Homo sapiens: one gene and its partner. The protein of the gene in region 1 purifies or fractionates together with the protein of each later gene. This does not show direct contact. Each region holds a gene or a part of one and is shown in the gene's direction. Other genes may lie near its edges.

Region 1 (3,928 bases):
TTTTAAGGCTGAACAGTATTCCATTGTACGTAGATACTGCATTTTGCTTTTCCATTCACACAAAGAGAGACACTTGGGTTGTTTCCGCCTCTTGGCTATTGTGTATAATGCTGCTACCAGCATGGGGTACAAATATGAGAAGTGAGGTTTAGGATCGTGTGAGGAGGATCACTTGTAGAGGGAAAATAGTGAAATAGGACGACCAGATAGGCTCTGTTGGAACTCGCGCCCATTGTTTTAAGACGCAGCTCAAATGTCACCTGGTTTTAGAAGTCTTCCTGGTCTCCGCAGGCAGTCAGTATCTCTTTCCTAAATCCACCACATTCCCGTAGACAGACACCACATTTATGCAAATCTCCTTCTCACAGACAGTGAGTTCCATGGGGGTCCCCTGGCAGCCTCCAGCCCTGTACCATGCTAACTCTTCCGGAGAGGAAATGGGGCCTCGGGAGAGCCTTTGAAGCCTGTGTTGGTACAGGCTGTCCTTCCAGCTAACGGGGCTCTCTGGGGAATGTATGTTTGACTTTCTATTCCCGGTAATATAAGTTCAAATGTTTGTGGATATTTGAAGCTCGGATGAAAGCGTTTCTATTCATGCCCCTAGAATCTGTGAGGCCTTTTCTTTCTTTTTTTTTTTTTAAACAAGAGCCCACAGCAAAACTTGGGTTACTTGGCTGAGGAAAGGAATGTAGAGCTAGGAGCAGGGTTTCATCTTCAGCCCCAGTCGGGCAAACCAGTGGCAGAAGGGAAAGCAGAGCCCAGGGGTCCCCATCCCGTACCTGGGGCGCAGGCCCCGCTGGGGTGGGAGGGAGAGTGGAGGGCCGGGCAGGCTGCAGCCGCGGATGGCTGCCCCCCCTGCCCCGGTGTTACTGGGAGGACGGAGGTTGCGACAGCAGCCGAGCCCACCCAGTTGCAGCCGGCTCGGGGCTTAGGGCAGGGGCGGGAGGTGACCACCGCGCCGCTGGCCGCCTCGCCCAGACATTCCGTTTCTGCCGCTGGAATGCGCGGACAAGGCTCCTTGTTGGCCTTGGGCGGGGTTCGCCGGGCCGGCCTGGCGCTCGAGGCCCCGGGGCGGGGCGGGGCCCGAGGCCGCGGGACCTTTAAATCCGAGCCTCGCGTGGGCTCCTGGCCCCCGACGGACACCACCAGGCCCACGGAGCCCACCATGCCGCGCCCGGCCCCCGCGCGCCGCCTCCCGGGACTCCTCCTGCTGCTCTGGCCGCTGCTGCTGCTGCCCTCCGCCGCCCCCGACCCCGTGGCCCGCCCGGGCTTCCGGAGGCTGGAGACCCGAGGTCCCGGGGGCAGCCCTGGACGCCGCCCCTCTCCTGCGGCTCCCGACGGCGCGCCCGCTTCCGGGACCAGCGAGCCTGGCCGCGCCCGCGGTGCAGGTACAGGCGGGCGGCGGGAGGGACGCGTGAGCATCGAACGAGGAGAAGCCCAGGGCATCCACCAAGCGCGCTTCATCCCGGCCTCAGGCCGACCGTGGTGCGGGGGAAAGAGGCCCCTCCCGGATGAATCCTGTGGGGGAAACTGAGGTCCAGAGAAGGGGAGGGAGATGCCCAATATCACTCATGTGTCCAGGCTAGAGATGTGGGTCTCCTGAAGCTCTCACTCCCCTGTGATTCGGCCAGGAGCACAGGGCAGCTGGGGAGCGCAGGGGCTGCTGCCCAGCGGCTGCTGCTAAGCTCCGTCCCAGTCCTGACCTCTCCATTCAGTGAGCAAACCCTTCCTGAGACTCTGCTGTTAGTTCTCTTGGAATCTCTCCATCTCCATCCAATATCAGGGCGTGATCTTTCCTCCCCTCCCACAGTCCTCAGGCTGCCTCAGACTGGAAGGTAAGGGATGCGGGTGTGAGACCAGGAGGAGATCCGAGGAGCCGTAGGATACCCCAGGATCAAGACACTCTGGGTCTTTGGCGAACAATTCTATTTCTCTTTTTGGTCAGCAATTGATTCCTGAAGCAGAGCAAAGCTCATAGTGCAGCGAAGCGGGCAGGTCGTCTGACACAGCCCCTGACAGCACATGAAGGGAAACTGAGGCATATCAAGTTGAAGGGACTCTGTGAATCAGTATCAGAGGCCACAATAAAATTCAGGGCTCCGAAATCCCAAGCAAGGTCTCTTTCCACTGCCCCAGCCTACCAACCTCTTAATATGGTTTACATAAGATTGTATCTTCATTTCCAAAAAGCGCAGCTTCAGTCTTGCTAAAAAGAGTCTGTGCCAGGCCATTTCTGGGTATGCAGTCTCATTTGGCCAGCCACGCTGCATGCCTCAGGCTGATTTCAATTGTCTATCCCCTTCTGCATCTTTCTGGATAAGCTGAGAAGGAGCTCAAGGGACTCTTTCCTGACTCAAATACTCAGTCCCCGTATTTGAAGTGGCAGATTTGAAATGGCAAAAGCATTGCTGCTAAGGCAGGAGGTACCGGGGTCCACAGGGCTAGATTCAGCTGGTGGCTGGTTGCTCCAGGCCGGGAATTGAGGGAAAGCCTTTCTTCTGGAAGTTAATCTTACTCTAGTCCTGACCTGCCTCCCTCTGGGATGGGACTGGAAGAGGAAGGAGAGATTCAGCACCAGGTGGCCATGTCCCCCTAAGCTTTACTGGTCTTTCATTACCTAGAGTCCGAACCTGATCATGAATGATAACCCATTAATAAATGCGAGATTCCACCCTGTTCCAAATTATCTCCTTTTAGCAACCAGAAATTGCTAAGCTTCGCTATGGATTTTTATTTCTAGCAGGACTGTAAGGACTCAGTGGTATTATGAGTATGGGAACATTTTAGGAGATTCAGATTCTTTCTTTGTTCTTGGGAATCAAATTGCTGCTATTTAGTAAATGGGAGTGAGATTCAAAAACAACTAATGATTGATGCGGAGTACCAGTCAGGAAGGAACCAGATGTTCACAGAATTTTCTGCCACCATGGTCAAGCCTCAGGTATTAGTTTTCTATGGCCACTGTAACAAATTACTGTGAATTTAGTGCCTTAAGACAACACACATTTATTACCTGAGAGTTCTGTGGGTCAGAAGTCTGACCCTGGTCTCACTGGGCTAAGATGAAGGTGTCGGCAGGGCTGTGTTCCTTTTGGGAGGCTCTAGGGGAGACTGCATTTCCCTTCCCTTTCCACCGCATGAAGGCTGCTGAGTTCCTTGGCTTATGGCCTTTTTCTTCCATTTTCAGAGCCAGCTAAAGCAGGTTGAGGCCTTCTCCCATTGAGTTACTCACATTTCTTTCATCTGCCTCCCTCTTCTACTTTATAATTACATTGACTCACTGAATAATCCAGGATAACCTCTTGTGTAGAGCTCTTTGACTTAATCACACCTGCAAAGTCTCTGCTCTTTGCCACGTAAAAGTAACATGTCTCTGGAATTAGGACGTGGACGTCTTTGGCGGGGGACATTATTCTGCATACCACACCCCGAATAGAGGATTCGGTGTGAATAACCAAGTGGAGAAGGAAAGAATCATGCACGTTTAGTTATAAGAACATAGCCATGATATTTATAAGGACACCATTTGGGTGCTGGTGAAAGCACTGTCAATTACAGAGTTCATATCTTCATGTTACCCCCACCTTTTCTTTTTCTAATTATACAAAAATACTTTGACCCATCTCCAGGAAAGATTTTCAACATAATTCTTCTTCCTAGCTCTAGATCTATGGGACTTTCCAGGAATGAAGTAAAATTCTGGAGGTTTTTTTTTTTTTTTTTTTTTTTAGTATTTGAAGAGATTTATTCTGAGACAAACATGAGTGACCATGGTCTGTGACACAGCCCTCAAGAGGTCCTGAGTACATGTGCTCAAGATGGTCAGGGTGCAGCTTGTTTTTATACAATTTAAGGAGGTATGAGACATCAATCAAATACATTTAAGAAATACATTGGTTTGGTCCTAAAAGGTGGGACAACTCAAAGC
Region 2 (4,257 bases), on another chromosome or scaffold:
CAGTAAATAAATGAATCTCTCTCATTCTCTTAGCAAGGTGATTTTTTAAAAAATGTGTTTTAACCCTCCCACCAATCGTGAGATATGAACAAACCCTTTCTGAAAGGTGTTCTTTTTTTTCTTTCTTTCTTTCTTTTTTCCGTTGTTTGCTTGTCAGTTATACAATACCTTAAACCCTCCCTAGCAGTATTCAGCATTACGGTTCCATTCACCTCGCATTCTTCATTTCACTTAAAATTTGAAAAGGAAGGTAGAAATTTAAGTTTAAAGGACTCATCTCACCTTTAAAGGACTCATCCTTTAAAGGAGGCAGATGGAGATGTAGTTCCATGGCTAATTGCACTCTGTTATTCTTTTCTTAGTAGATTCACCTTTCAACTCTTTGCCTTCGAGAATGTTTCTCTTTCAATTTCTCTAGCTCTGTGTTTGTCTCTCTCCCTACCTCCCTCTCTAGAAGACAAAAAAAAAAAAAAAAGAAAAGAAAAAAGGAAAAGAAAAAAAAAAGAAAAAAAAGAAAAAAGAAGCCCTGTTTCATTTTGGTACCTGTAACTGCTGGAATTGGATCCATGTACAATAAGCAATCATTCTAACCGAAAAACAGAGAAGAAAGCACAATTGTAAGCCATGAGCTGTATTTTTGGTTCAATCACTTCCACTGCAAAAACCAGTCCATTTATTTTGGCGGATAGAAAGAAAATTTGATCCACCTTAGTGATGCTTCAAGGGTCTGTCTTTGCCTTTATGTTCTTGCACAGTTCCCAAACTTGCCCCACTTCTTCTCTGAAACAGATGTCCTGCTTAACGAGATGCATGTCTCCTACTCACTTCCACCCTTTTGCCCCCGTGAACAGATGAGCCCACAACCCTCTCTCCCCAGCCCTGGAGCTAACTAAATTGTAGACAGAGCAGCAGAGCAGCCCTGTCTTAGCTGATTAGGGTCTGGTTGCTGACTACGTTGCAGTTCCTGAGAAATACGGGGCAATTCACTTTGCAGGGTTCTGTCTCTCATGCAGTTTTGTGCCCCAAGAGTCACTTTTCAAAATCTCTTAACTTCTGTTCCTGGTTATACTGAGAAAGGAAGTTCAGGGGAATCCTTAACGTGGTTAATTATAAAGTCAGTGCTGGAATCCAAGGGACTCTCAGGCAGCAAGGGTGCAGCTCTTAACCCCACAGTCTCCAGCATGTGCGGAGAAGGTACAGGCAATGCAGGAACTTCAGAGGTGGTGGCAGGTGCTAGGTGCTAGGGTGTGGCTGCAGTTGTCTCCCTTTTCTCTTATAGCAGAAGGAGCTGAAAGAGGAGGGGAGGAGGGAGGAAGGAGAGAGAGAGCAAAAGAGAGACAGAGAGAGAGAGCAAAAGAGAGAGAGAGGAGGGGGAGACCCGGGGAGTGAATAACAGGGCGGGCGGAGGGCGGGCGGGCGCCGGGGGAGTGGGGAGCGCGCCTGCCAGGCTCAGACTCACACGCACGCCGCCTCTGTTTGTACACAGTGCGCTCCCGGCGGCCCGCTCGCTCCCCTCCAGCTCACGCTTCATTGTTCTCCAAGTCAGAAGCCCCGCAGCCGCCGCGCGGAGAACAGCGACAGCCGAGCGCCCGGTCCGCCTGTCTGCCGGTGGGTCTGCCTGCCCGCGCAGCAGACCCGGGGCGGCCGCGGGAGCCCGCGCCCCGCCCGCCGCGCCTCTGCCGGGACCCACCCGCAGCGGAGGGCTGAGCCCGCCGGCGGCTCCCCGGAGCTCACCCACCTCCGCGCGCCGGAGCGCAGGCAAAAGGGGAGGAAAGGCTCCTCTCTTTAGTCACCACTCTCGCCCTCTCCAAGAATTTGTTTAACAAAGCGCTGAGGAAAGAGAACGTCTTCTTGAATTCTTTAGTAGGGGCGGAGTCTGCTGCTGCCCTGCGCTGCCACCTCGGCTACACTGCCCTCCGCGACGACCCCTGACCAGCCGGGGTCACGTCCGGGAGACGGGATCATGAAGCGCTCGGTAGCCGTCTGGCTCTTGGTCGGGCTCAGCCTCGGTGTCCCCCAGTTCGGCAAAGGTAAGGCGTCGGGACCCGGACAGCTGGGTGAGGGATGGGCTGGGAGTCCCCTGAGAAACGCCGCGCAGGGGGCCGGAGGCGGTCCCTCCGGCGTGCCAAGGGTGGCGAGCGCCGCTGGCGGCGCGGAGGAGGCGTCGAGTCCTGGGTGCCCCGAGAAAGTGCTTGTAAAGTCTGAGCAGAGTGCGCGGGGCCGAGCGGGGAGAAGGGTGCGGGGTACCGGGGTGAGATACAGGAAAGAGGAGGACGGTGGGGAGCGGTAGAAGACAGCGTCCCCAGGACCAGCGACTCTGTGGCTCACTCGGCCACTGGGTCTCGGCGCAAACCCTCCCTAGGCAGTGCGGGCGATGCTGACTGCAGACGTCGGGCAGGGCTTTCGTGCGGGCGGGAGCGGGGGAAGCCAGTGCGCCCGGGCGTCAGCTAGTTGATGCGGGAAGAGGCTGGGGAGCTGCAGGGCCGTCCGCCCCCGGGTGCGGTGCTCTGGCGCAGGGCCTGGGCTGAGCCGTTCGCAAACCCAGACCCGGCGCTGGGCGTTTTGGCCGCGGGTGAGGTGGAGAGGAGTCTCACAGGTCACTTCAGCTTTCTCCTGCCTCCCCATCCCAGAGGAGCAGCATCGATTACAGCAAACCCCAGGAACCCGCCTCTCCTAGTCTGACCCCAGGGGCCTGGAGCTTAGCTGCGCACCCCCTCCGAGTACCAGTGTTAACTCTTGGTAATGGGGAATAGTGCGGGGCAAGCCACCCCTCGCGTCCCCGCACAGGAGCGGAAAAGTTGTGAGAGCTTGTAGGGTGATGCCTTCTGTGAATTGCACGAAAAAATAAAAACAGAAAAATAAAAATCAAATTAAATTAAAAAGAAAAAAGCATTTAAAAGAAAACGCAGGACTTCGACGAGTGTCCTGCTGGAGTAGTTTAGGCGACTTCCAGGTCCCCTGCGAGGTGCAGCTTGTCCATACAAACCCTTGTGCTGACCTGGGTCTCACCGCTGGCCGGGGCTGAAGTAGTCGCCGGAAAAGGGCAGCGGGGGCAGCAGGGTGTGTGGGGAGGCGAGTGGGAGCTGTGCCTGGGGGAGCTGTGCCACTCCTGCGCTCACAGATGCGGGCGGCCCCTTGTGAGGGATCCGCGGGTAATAGAATCCTCTGCAGGCAGCTTCAAGTGGAAAGCTGAGTGAACTACAGGGTTTTAAATGCTGTGCCTCTAAAAAAGGTAGATGGATTTAAAAATGCGTTGACTCCAGTCCACTTGAGATTAGACAGAGTATGAATATTCTGCACCATCCATCCATGCACCTATCCATCTATTTGAGTCACAAGAAAATTGTGGACTCTTGGGCGACTGTTCGCCCAAGAAGCCGGGTGTTGCTGGCCAGATGCCCTCGCAGCTCTGGCAGTAGAGATCCATGGCCGCGCCTTGCCTGGGCCTCCCTCCGTCCCCCAGAATGTGGTTATTTTCCCCCAGCGTGTAGGCGTGTGTGTAGGTGTGTGCCTCGCCTGCGTTTACAAAGTGCCCTTCCAGTTAATAGGCAAAGGCAGCCACTCCACTAAAGGTTAAGAAATGGTAATGGTTCCAGTAGTTGCTCGGCCGAGTCTCCAGCGATATAAAAAAGAGAGTGCTTCCACGGCTGCTGTTTTTCCTTTCTCTCATTTCCCGTCTGGATTTCCTCTGCACTTTGATCTCTTAGCAGGAAGGGAAGGGGGAAGGACTGCAGGCACTCCCCTCTCCTCCTTCTCTTCCCCGCCTACGTTTCCACCCCAAACACGAAAACACACTCACCCACTCACTCGCATTGTGTCACCGCCACCACCGTACGTCCCCGCTCCGAGGTGGAGGGCGGCGCGGGGTAGAGGAGAAGATAGTGCGTCTAGCCTATGTGGCCGCGCTTGCCTATGTGGCCGCGCTTGCCTGGCTGGGTCTGATTGAGGGAGCCCCGGGGCGCGGCAAGTCCCGGCTCGCTGCAGCCAGGAGCTCTGTCTCCTGAAGATACCCGCGCCGAGGGCACAGCTTACTCCGCCAGACAAGCCAACCATGGAGATGTTGCCTGGACTCTCCATCCTGGTTCTCTTAGACAATGCTCGGGAAGCTGGATGCTCCATATTCTTCAGGAGATTTCTCCCTTTTTCCCCCAGCTAGCTTGTGAGGACAGGGGAAAGGCTTGAGGAAAAATAAATAGACCATTTTGCATTAGCCCTTTCTGTTAAAACTTGCACCTCTCTAATTTTTTCTCCCTCACC

The links. Proteins that work in one complex are often made in the same cells at the same time.
Region 2: the proteins of MATN3 (region 1) and EDIL3 purify together in Homo sapiens (affinity purification with mass spectrometry; one large-scale study listed by BioGRID and IntAct). This does not show direct contact.

Annotation. Positions count from the first base shown.
Region 1 is NC_000002.12:20,009,869-20,013,796, reverse strand, and holds the start of MATN3 (matrilin-3 precursor), read left to right. Parts: upstream 1-1,128; 5' UTR 1,129-1,165; coding exon 1,166-1,388; intron 1,389-3,928. UniProt on the Homo sapiens protein: Major component of the extracellular matrix of cartilage and may play a role in the formation of extracellular filamentous networks.
Region 2 is NC_000005.10:84,382,081-84,386,337, reverse strand, and holds the start of EDIL3 (EGF-like repeat and discoidin I-like domain-containing protein 3 isoform 1 precursor), read left to right. Parts: upstream 1-1,457; 5' UTR 1,458-1,963; coding exon 1,964-2,030; intron 2,031-3,799; exon of another isoform or gene 3,800-3,916; intron 3,917-4,257. UniProt on the Homo sapiens protein: Promotes adhesion of endothelial cells through interaction with the alpha-v/beta-3 integrin receptor. Inhibits formation of vascular-like structures. May be involved in regulation of vascular morphogenesis of remodeling in embryonic development.